Regions from separate parts of the Homo sapiens genome. Here region 2 is linked to region 1. The links come from fine-mapping of genetic effects on gene expression. Tissue or cell type: lung. Region 1 holds a variant in brackets; the other region holds the start of a gene. All regions are shown on one strand. Distances are between the middles of the regions.

Region 1 (5,372 bases):
CCCCTTCCCCCTCCCAAACAAGAATGACGGGACAAGCCCAAGAAGACAACCCCCACCCTGTGCCCCAGGCGCTGGCTGCTCGCACCTCCATTCCTGTGTGTACTGCTCTCCGCCTCCGCCAGGAGCCCAGCTATTTCTATCTCTATGGAAAGGGAGCCCAAGCCTCCAAGCCTCCTGCCCCCCTTTCCTGCTCCTGGCAGTGCTCTAATTAACTCCTCAGCTGGATGCCGCCTGCCATGGGTACTCTGGCCAGGGCTGCCATGAATAACTGCACCTGCGCTCACACCCAGCTTCCCACAGAGGCTGGGCCCAGTGCCCCTGCAGAGAGTGTGACCACTGGGAGCCTGGTCCTGGGGGCCTGGACTCCCCCGGCTATGCACTCTCCTTTGGGAGCCTGAGCTGAGGGCATATGGGGGTCTTTGGGACCCACCCTCTCCTCTGCAGCCTCCACCACAACCCTGCAGGGGCTACTTGCTGGTTCAGCAATCCTGCTGTGTGCCTGGCATGGGGCTCAGACCTGAGCAGGGAAGGAGTCGGGAGGGCAAGGAGATGAATAAGCCTGTCCTCCCTCAAGGGAGGCAAACACATAAACAACTCATTATGCAATGAGAAGGAATGAAGTTAGTGCTAAATTAAGGTACAAGCTGGGCACCAAGACTGCAGGCCCTCAATTCTTCCCCACTTTTTTTTCTTATTATAAAAGCAATTCATACTCATTTTACAAAGAATTTATATATGCAGATAACAAAAAGAAAATTATAATACATTCTTTATCCATCCACTCAAGGACAACTTTGTCCATACCTGTGGCCCAGACTTCCAAACTTTTTTTAACAGAGCAAGGACAGGTCACAGATCTGAGGGTCTCTCCTCCAGGGACCACCCGCCTGGCTCTGGGACAGTCTTTCCAACTTGAAATTCACAAGAAATGCATAGAAAGATTTCAAAGCAAATAATATGGATAGTATGACAAGTTCATGTAAAAAGAAAAATCCCAAAACTCTATCAATGCCTGGAAAATGTCTGGAAAGATACTTACTAAAGGGTCAACATTTATCAGCTAGGGGGAAAGTGATGGAGGAGCAGATAGACTTTTTTCTGCTAGAAATGTCTTTGAATTGTTACAATAAGCATGGATTTATATAAACTTTATGATTTTTTAAAATGAAAACTTTTTTAAAAAAATTGCTCAAGGCATAATTTCCAAATTTTCTATGGCGTTGTCTTATCTTTGCACTTAGAATAATATAATATGAAAACTAAAAGGAGGTACAGCCACTGTGGAGAGCAGTTTGGCAGTTTCTGCAAAAGGTAAACAGAATTTCCGTATGACCCACCAACTCCACGCATTTGGATATGCTCGAAATGACTGAAAACAGGGACTCCCCTTGTTCACAAATGTTCATCACAGCACTATCCACAGTAACCGAAAGGTAGAAACAACTCAATGTCCATCAACGGCTGAATGGATAAACAAATCGTGTTATGTACATGCAATAGAATATTACTCAGCTATTAAAAAGAAATAAAGTGCTGACACTTGCTATAACATGGATGAAACTTAAAACATTACGCCAAGGGAAGGAAGCCAGACATAAAAGGCCACAGAGTCTATGATTCCTTTGAAATGAAATGAACACAATAGGTAAATCCATAAAGGGAGAAAGCAGATGAGTGGTTACCAGAGGCTGGGGGGAGGGAGAGAATGAGGAGTGATTACTTAATGGGCACAGGGTGTTTTTCTGGAGTGACGAAAAATTTTGAAACTAGTGGTTTTGAAACTGGTGGTTGTACAACATTGGGAATATACTAAATGCCACTGAATTGTATAATTTTTATTTATTTATTTATTTATTTATTGAGACAGGGTCTCACTCTGTTGCCCAGACCAGAGTGCAGTGGGGTGATCTCGGCTCACTGCAACCTCTGCCTCCCAGGCTCAAGCCATCCTCCCATCTCAGCCTCCCACCCCCAGCTCCCACACCACCACACCCAGCTAATTCTTCTACTTTTTGTAGAGACAGGGTTTCACCACGTTGCCCAGGCTAGTTTCAAACTCCTAGACTCAAGTGATCCTCCCACCTTGGCCTCCCAAAGTGCTGGGATTAGAGGTGTGGACCACCACACCCAGACTGAATTGTACACTTTAACACGGTTCCTTGTATGTTATGTGAATTTTATCTAAAAAAAAAAAAAAAAACAAACAAACAAACAAAAAAAACCACAATGAAACATTAAAAATAATAAAAACAAAAACAAAAGCAAAAAGCTTAGTCTCACTCAACTTTCATGCCCCCCAACCCCTGACCACCTGGCCTTCGAGGGTCTTGAAGGAAAAATCTTCAACCTGCCCACTGGCAGGGCCAAGCCACTTGGCTCCCAGAAGGCCTTGGAGAGGCAGGGGCAGTCCAAGGGAGAAAAGTACCCCCAAGTAAGAGAGGGGAGAGGAGCGCAGAGGCAGGAGCTGGGCCAGGCAGACAGAAGAGGGAAAGCAGCCATCCTGCACCAGGCACCACACTCCCGAGGAACCCTCGGATATCCCTGAGAGGTCAGAACTGCTATCCCATTCTTCAGATGAGAAAACCAAGGTTCAGTGTGGCTTGGAGGCAGGGCTGGGACCTCCTGACTCCAAGGAGGAGAGGCAGGGGAACCTGGCATAGCCCCAGGTTGTTTTCTATTTGTTCCATCTATTTTTTTCCCCTTTTCTGCCTTCTTTTGGACTATTTTTGATTATTCCATTTTATCTTCTTTATTGGCTTAGCAGCTGTAACTCTGCTATTTTAGCAGTTGCTTTAGTGTTTATAGTACACATCTTGACCTTTTCACAATTTACCTTCAAGTGATGTTGTGCCACTTCACATCGAGTATAAGAACCTTACA[TTTACAG/G]AATTTACTTCCATTTCTCCCCACCTGGCCCGAGTTCCCCCTCTCTGGGTTGTGGCCGAAAACACTCTCCAGGTAGTAAGCAGAGACAACCATAGAGCTCTGTGGGACCCCTGAATCTTGTAGCCTAATGTCTAGTGTCTTGAAAACCATTATTTCATATGTTCTGTCTGTTTTTTAAAAATTGTTTCAGGCAGGAGTATAAATCCAGTCCCTGCTACCCTGTCTTGGCCAGAAGCAGAAGCCCCCAACATGCATAGGAGGAAACCAGGACTCAGAGGCTAATCCCCTCACCCAAGGTGAGGGAGCCCATAAGTGGACAGGCAGGAATCCAACCAGCCCTGGTGCTCTCTTCCCTGGCCCACTGCTCCTGCATGAACCAACTGAGAATGCAGAAACCACTCTCAGTAGGAGAAAGTGAACTTTTGTCACCACAGCAAAAAGCTGCTCACAGCATTGTTACTGCTTTGGAAGCCAGTGGGACAATTCTTTTGCATAAAGTTACCCATTAAAGAGCAACTTTCAGCATCTTCCAAGCCTCACCTTAAATGCTCTCTCTTTGCATCTACAGAAGCCTCTGTGGCATATTCCCCACGGTGTTTGCTGTCTAGCAGGATGCATAGGTCTGCTGAGAATGTAGGATCAGCCCCCTATAAAAGTACTCTGTAACCTATAATATGCTGTAACAGATGGAATTGTCTCCCCACTTACCCTCCCATGAGTATTTTCTGGCTCAATCTAATCACCTAGGTGGTGGAATTGCGGTAACTCTGAGTGTGTGTATGTGTGCATACGTGTGTGTGTGTGTGTGTGTGTGTGTGTGTGTGTGTGTGAGAGAATTTGGAGGCAAGGAGGAGGCCCGTTTTTATCACACTAGTCAACTCACTTTACGTTCAGGGATCTATTTGTCTTTAAGCAGAGGGAGAGGTATTTTTCCTTAAAATCACTTGAGGCAGCTGGCTGAGGCCAGATTCCGACAGAATCTGATGGGGGACGGGGCCTAAAATAGCCTTCAGCTCCTCCCCACCCTCTATCTTGCAGGCAGAGAGGAGTCGGGGCCCAGTTCTTTCCCAAGCCCTCTCCTCCACCAGCTGACCCCAGAAATACTTTATTTAGAAAATCAATCTGAAAGCAACAGGAAGGACTTTCATTCCTACCAGCACCTTGTCACACATCAATTTCATTTAAGGCTCTACAATTCCACAGCTGTGAGGCGCAGGCAAAGTCCTTAGCCTGGCCAAGACTCAAGCTCCTCATCTGTAAACTCCCAGGACTGACCGTTAAGTGGCAAACATGATGCATGTGGCACAGATTGGGAGCTTGAATCTTAGGCTTCTTTCCGTCCTCCTCATAGTCCATTCACCTTGTTGAATGTTGACAACAGCATTCAGCTATTGGTGTTACCAGCAAAAGTGTTACCCAGGCCGGGCACGGTGGCTCACTCCTGTTATCCCAGCATTTTGGGGGGTCAAGGCGGGCAGATCACCTGAGCTCAGGAGTTCGAGACCAGCCTGGCCAACATGGTGAAAACCCGTCTCTACTAAAAATACAAAAATTAGCCAGGCGTGGTGGTGAGCACCTGTAATCCCAGCTACTCGAGAGGCTGAGGCAGGAGAAACACTTGAACCTGGGAGACGGAGGTTGCAGTGAGCCAAGACTATGCCACTGTACAATCGGAATGAGTGAGACACCATCTCAAAGAAAAAAAAAAACAGCATTACCCTTAGAAGTCTGTGTCCTGCTTGTCGGTCTGTTGCTTCCAACTAAAACAGATGGAAGGAAAACCCATAAACAACACCCTCCCTGCTCCATCCAGATCAGAGGTTTTCAAAGTTTGCTGCCCATTAGAATCCCCTGGGGAGTTTTAAAAATCCCAACACCAGCTGCACCCCAGATTCATTAAATCCAAATCTCTGGGGATGGGGTCCTGGCATCAGGAAATGTTAAAGCTTCCCGGGGGCTTCCTGTGTGCAGCTGGGGTTGAGAAGCCATGGTCTGGTGTGAGAGGTCCTGAATGCTCTGCCTGCCCCACCCTCTCCTTCACCTGCAATCCCAGCACATCCCTCGGGCTCCCTGAGTGCAGTAACCAGGATGCAGGACCAGACAAGTTTGGGAGAGTGGGACATTTAGGGAGCCCGCATTCTCAAGTTCTGGCAGGAGTGGGTGGGGAGTGGGCCCTTCACCACCCTGAGAATGAGGGCCTCCCATATTTTGCTCCCCAGGAACCTCATTATTAAGGAAATGCTCTCTTGCTGGGCCACTTCAAGAACCTGAGCATAAGCGCCTCCTTACGTACGCCCTGGCCACCACGAGGGTGCCTCCCTACCCCTGCCCCTCCTTACCTACAAAGGGCCATGATTCCAGCCCCCTGGCCAGAGCCCAGCAACTGTCAGGCCACCTGGCTGAGAGGCAAGCACACCCATCAAAGGGAAGAGGAGACAAGGTGTCCCTTACCAGCCAGCCAGCCACCATCCCATTTCTCACAGCTG
Region 2 (5,372 bases), 47 kb after region 1:
ATTTTCCTGCCTCAGCCTCCTGAGTAGCTGGGATTACAGGCACGCACCACCACGCCCGGCTAAGTTTTGTATTTTTAGTAGAGACAGGATTTCACCATGTTGGCCAGGCTGGTCTCAAACTCCTGACCTCAGGTGATCTGCCCACCTCGGCCTCCCAAAGTGCTGGGATTACAGGCATGAGCCACCATGCCCAGCCACCACTTTCTTTTTTTAAGAGACAGGGTCTTGCTCTGTTGCCCAGGCTGGAGTGCAATGGTGCAATCACAGCTCACTGTAACCTCGAACTCCTGAACTCAAGCAGTTCTCCCACCTCAGCCTCCAGAGTAGCTGGGATTGCAGGCGCATGCCACCATACCCAGTTAACTTTTCTAATTTTTGTAGAGATGGAGTCTTGCTGTGTTGCCCAGGCTGGTCTCAAACTCCAGGGCTCAAGCGATCCTCTCACCTCAGCCTCCCAAAGTGCTGGGATTTACGGGCGAGAACAACTGCACCCAGCCCATACAGCACATTTTTACCTCAAAGTCACACGTCCCTTGGGGATCTAACATTCCTAGGTGTTCATTCTGTGTGTTGGCACTGTGCAGGGGGCTTTCTTTCCATTCACCTTATTTGCTTCTCACAGTAACTGCTGAAGAAATTCCATTTTACAAAGAAGGAAATGAGGTTAAGTACTTGCCCAAGGTCATACAGCTAATATGTGGCCAGGATCTGAACCTGGCTCCATCGTCTGCAGAGCCCAGGCTCTCGCACCATTGCTACACTGCACTGCCTGGCCCTGCAGAGACCAGTCCTTCACCTTCTGAGTGGCCATCTGCATAACCTCTTCATGCTGGGGGCTGGGAGAGGGAGAGGGGAAAAGAAGGCCAAAGTTTACTCTACCTGGACCCCACTAGGTCATCCTGGACATCAAACACGGCTTGTCCCACCCTTGGGGCTCAGTGAGATGAGGCTTCTCCTGCCTCCTCTGCCTGCCTTGTATCTTTTTCTTACAACTAGATCAGAAGGAACAGAGCCATGTCTTTTGCACCTCTGTGTCCCCATGCATACCCTACCCCATGCCTTGCAGATAGTAGGTACTCTATGCATTTTCTGTGAATATTAAGGAGTGGCCCCTCACCCCTCTCCACTACCACTGCAAGGACAGACCCAGAGGAAGACAGGAGCCCTGGAAACATCCATTAGTGGGACTAAGGGGAGGAGCAGAGGGGGAAAGTGCCCAGTACTCCTGCCTTCCAGCAGAGCCAGCCCCCAGCTCCCCACGCCCTCCTAGGAGACACCTCCCCAAGGTACCCTCCCCACCAAAGACTGGGAGGTCAGGTGTCAGGCTAGGCTCTCAGGAAGGAATTCCCCTCCCTTCAAGCCTCCAGTCCAAATTCCTCTCAAGGGAGAGCCAATGAAAGGCAGGACTCAGACAGGAGAGAAAGACACCAAGCATGGGGCTCCTGAAGGTCCCCTCCCCTCTGATGCTTGCCTGGGTGCCCTGCTCAGACACACCATCAATTCCCCCTCTTCCCACTGTGTTCCCTACCATGGGTTGGAAGTTATCTTACCACAGAGTGGTTAAGCCCTGGCCTTTGTAGCCCAACATCTGGATTCAAATCCTAGCTCCTTCACATATGAGCTGTGTGGCCAAGGGCCAGTTACTCCACTTCTCTGAACTCCCTATCCCCTTGGTCATTAGGCCTACAGACTCAGAATCCAGGCCTCCTGGTTGTTTCTGGGCTCTGACTCTCGAAAAAGACTATCTGGGTTCAAATCCCAGCTCTAATCTGTGCTTAACCTCTCTGCCGCAGGATCTTTATCTGTAAGGTGGGGACAATAATAGTACCTACCCACCATCTAGCCTTATTGTGAGAATTAGCTGAGGGAGTTTATGCAATGTGCTCAGATCAGACTTGGCACACAATTAGCACCCACTAAGTATTGGCTATCATTAGCAATAGCTGATAAGCTTGGAACGTACCTTGCACCGCACCTTGCACCGCACCTTGCACCTTGCACCGTCCCTGGCAGGTAGTAAGAGCTCACTAAATAGAAGCTATGATTACCTTCACCCCCACTAGACTATCCTGGCCCTGGAGGTGGGTTCTGGGTCATATCCATCTTTGATTCCCCAGCAGCCAGCATGGGGCCTGGCACCAAGCTCAATGAAGACCTGCCAGGAGGACCAGAAGATCCAGGGTGTGGGGTGGCACGAGCCTCCCACCAGGGAGAAGAGGAACCGAGGTGTCGGGGAAGAGAAAACAGAGCAGAGGGAGAAAAGCCAAGGCAGAGAGATAAGCAAGTGAAGTGAGTGAGAAAAGGAACAGGAGAGGCTGTGGCGGAGAGAGATAAGGAGGAAGGATGGAGAAGGCGAGGGTCGAGGAAAATGCCCAGGGAGGCAGGGAGCCCTGGGGAGAAACGCTGGGCGAGGCCAGGGCTGCGGCAGGGGAGCCGAGCCGGGAGAGGGGCGCAAGACCTGGCGCTGGGCGGGACGCTCGGGCAGGGTGCGGGAGGGGCTGAGGGCCGCCCCCACTGCCTCCCCGCCTTGGAGCTGGGGCCAGGCGGCCGGAGATTGGCTGGGGCGCACGGCGAGGCCCGGGCTGGAGCCCCGAGGTGGGAGGCGCCAGGATCAGTCGGGGCGCCCGCAGCGCAGGCTGCCACCCACCTGGGCGACCTCCGCGGCGGCGGCGGCGGCGGCTGGGTAGAGTCAGGGCCGGGGGCGCACGCCGGAACACCTGGGCCGCCGGGCACCGAGCGTCGGGGGGCTGCGCGGCGCGCACCTGGAGAGGGCGCAGCCATGCGGGCGGCGGCGGCGGGGGGGGGCGTGCGGACGGCCGCGCTGGCGCTGCTGCTGGGGGCGCTGCACTGGGCGCCGGCGCGCTGCGAGGAGTACGACTACTATGGCTGGCAGGCCGAGCCGCTGCACGGCCGCTCCTACTCCAAGCCGCCGCAGTGCCTTGACATCCCTGCCGACCTGCCGCTCTGCCACACGGTGGGCTACAAGCGCATGCGGCTGCCCAACCTGCTGGAGCACGAGAGCCTGGCCGAAGTGAAGCAGCAGGCGAGCAGCTGGCTGCCGCTGCTGGCCAAGCGCTGCCACTCGGATACGCAGGTCTTCCTGTGCTCGCTCTTTGCGCCCGTCTGTCTCGACCGGCCCATCTACCCGTGCCGCTCGCTGTGCGAGGCCGTGCGCGCCGGCTGCGCGCCGCTCATGGAGGCCTACGGCTTCCCCTGGCCTGAGATGCTGCACTGCCACAAGTTCCCCCTGGACAACGACCTCTGCATCGCCGTGCAGTTCGGGCACCTGCCCGCCACCGCGCCTCCAGGTAGCGCCGCCGCCGCCGTCCCCGCGCGCTCCGACGGCCCTGCAGCTCCCCTAGCACAGCTCTGCGAACCCCCCAAGAGGTGCAGCTCCCCCCCTCCGCCCACACACACACACACACGCTGTCCTAGCTCAGCCCAGCGTCCCCGGAATTATCCCCCGCAGCCTTCCCGCCTTCCCACCTCCCCAGGGAGTGGCAGCATAGTGCCTCCCGGCGGCTCCAGACCTTCCCTCTGGCTCTCGTTCCCTGGAAACCCCTGGCACCCCTCTCAGTACCCATCCAACCAAGCTGCTGAGAATCCCCCAATGCCGTCCCCCCAATCCTGGGACGTCCTGATAAATGCCTTATGACCCCTCTCAGCCCAAGAATGCCTGGGGTCGTTAAACAATGCCTTTCACCTGGATCCCGAGGCACCAAAGCAAGCATCATCCCCACTCCGTGTTGGGACCTTGGGAAGAGAGGAGAGGTGAGGGAAGGGATGTGGAGAAAGACTGGGGACTAAGAATGTTCTGGACTATGATCTGCGTCCCCGTTTTCTGTACCTGGAACCCTAAGATCTCCACCCTCTTCCCCAGTTCCCCTGGCTGGGAGTCATTCGGGTAAGGCTCAGTGCGGAAGGAAGAGCAGATTAGGCTCTGCCCCTGAAGAGAAGCCCTTAGGCAAGTTGCTTGACTTCACTGAGCCTCAGTTTCCCCATCCATAAAATAGGAAGCCATCCCAGGCTCATGAAACCTATGAGGTCCTAAGTCCCTCCTCCCACCCACCCCTCAGTCCCCTGAACCCTAATTTCTCCCTGGTCTCAGCCTCCCCTTTTCTGTGCTGGTCCACATAGCTCTTCCAGGCTGGCTCCATGCCCTCTCCCCCTTCCTCCCCGTCTGCTGTCAGACTTGAGTAACCGCTCTGGGCCTCGGTTCCCTTTTCTCCAAAATAGGAGTAAGGGCTGGGCGCAGTGGTTCACACTTGTAATCCCAGCACTTTGGGAGGCCAAGGTGGGTGAATCACTTGAGGTCAGGAGTTCTAGACCAGCCTGGCCAACATGGTGAAACCCCGTCTCTACTGAAAATACAAAAATTAGCCGAGCGTGGTGGCACACGCCTGTAATCTCAGCTACTCGGGAGGCTGAGACAGAAGAATCGCTTAAACCTGGGAGGCAGAGGTTGCAGTAAGCTGAGATTAGAGAGCCACTGCACTCCAGCCTGGGTGACAGAGCGAGACTACATCTCAAAAATAAAATAGGAATAAGAATCCCTATTTCATAGGCTGAGGATGAGAGGAGATAAAATTTAAAAGACAATGCACATCATGGCTGCAGCCGCCAGGGTCATGGGGCAGTCACTGTGCCCACCTGGCAGTTTTGTCACTGCACAGCCTGTCTGGTGATTGTCAATCACTCTGTGAGCAGGTAGTGATATGATTGCCATCATCCCATCTCCTGATAAGGAAGTAGAGGCTTGGCAAGGGGAAGTGGCTGGTCAGTGAGGAAGCCTGCACCCCAAGTGGCTCTTGGAACTCCAATCCCCTCACCAACTGTCCCCCAACCCCACCCCACTTTCTCTCTTCAGTGACCAAGATCTGCGCCCAGTGTGAGATGGAGCACAGTGCTGACGGCCTCATGGAGCAGATGTGCTCCAGTGACTTTGGTGAGTGTGGGGCCCACGCTGCCACTGCCCCGACATCACCCCCAGCCCCTCTTTCTTGACGCACACGGGAACATACATGCCCACATCCATCACAGTGAATCCCAACAGTTTTTGCATCATGGCTCCCGTTTAGAAGCCAATTATAACCATAAACCCTTTCCCAAGAGAAATGCACCTCTTTCTGCATCATCTCAGGACCATCACAAGTCCCCTAAGGCCATGGGCCTTGGGCCTCAGAAACCACCCCGGCCAGGGCTCCCACAGCCCTCCCTTGGTGTCATTTTCAGAGGGCCCTCCATGACTGGATCATCTCTGTGGATAGTGCAGGCTTAGCCCAGAGATGGATGGAGCCAGGTGGGGAGTGATGGCTCTAGGATGGAAGTGGAGCACCCTTGTCCATGGGTACCTCCACCTGGGACTCAGCACA

What was found. PIP is the estimated chance that this variant, and not a neighbour inherited with it, causes the effect.
Region 2: it holds the start of SFRP5, and the variant in region 1 is fine-mapped to the expression of SFRP5 in lung (TOPMed, PIP 0.93).

The regions. Positions count from the first base shown.
Region 1 is chr10:97,816,663-97,822,034 of GRCh38, reverse strand. LOC107984260 (a long non-coding RNA gene) reads right to left here and starts at 138. Exons shown (of 3, transcript XR_001747563.2): 1 at 1-138. The variant TTTACAG/G (reference allele first, on the strand shown) is at 2,881.
Region 2 is chr10:97,769,241-97,774,612 of GRCh38, reverse strand. It overlaps SFRP5 (secreted frizzled related protein 5), which reads left to right and starts at 2,614. Exons shown (of 3, transcript NM_003015.3): 1 at 2,614-3,308; 2 at 4,868-4,945. The coding sequence starts at 2,780.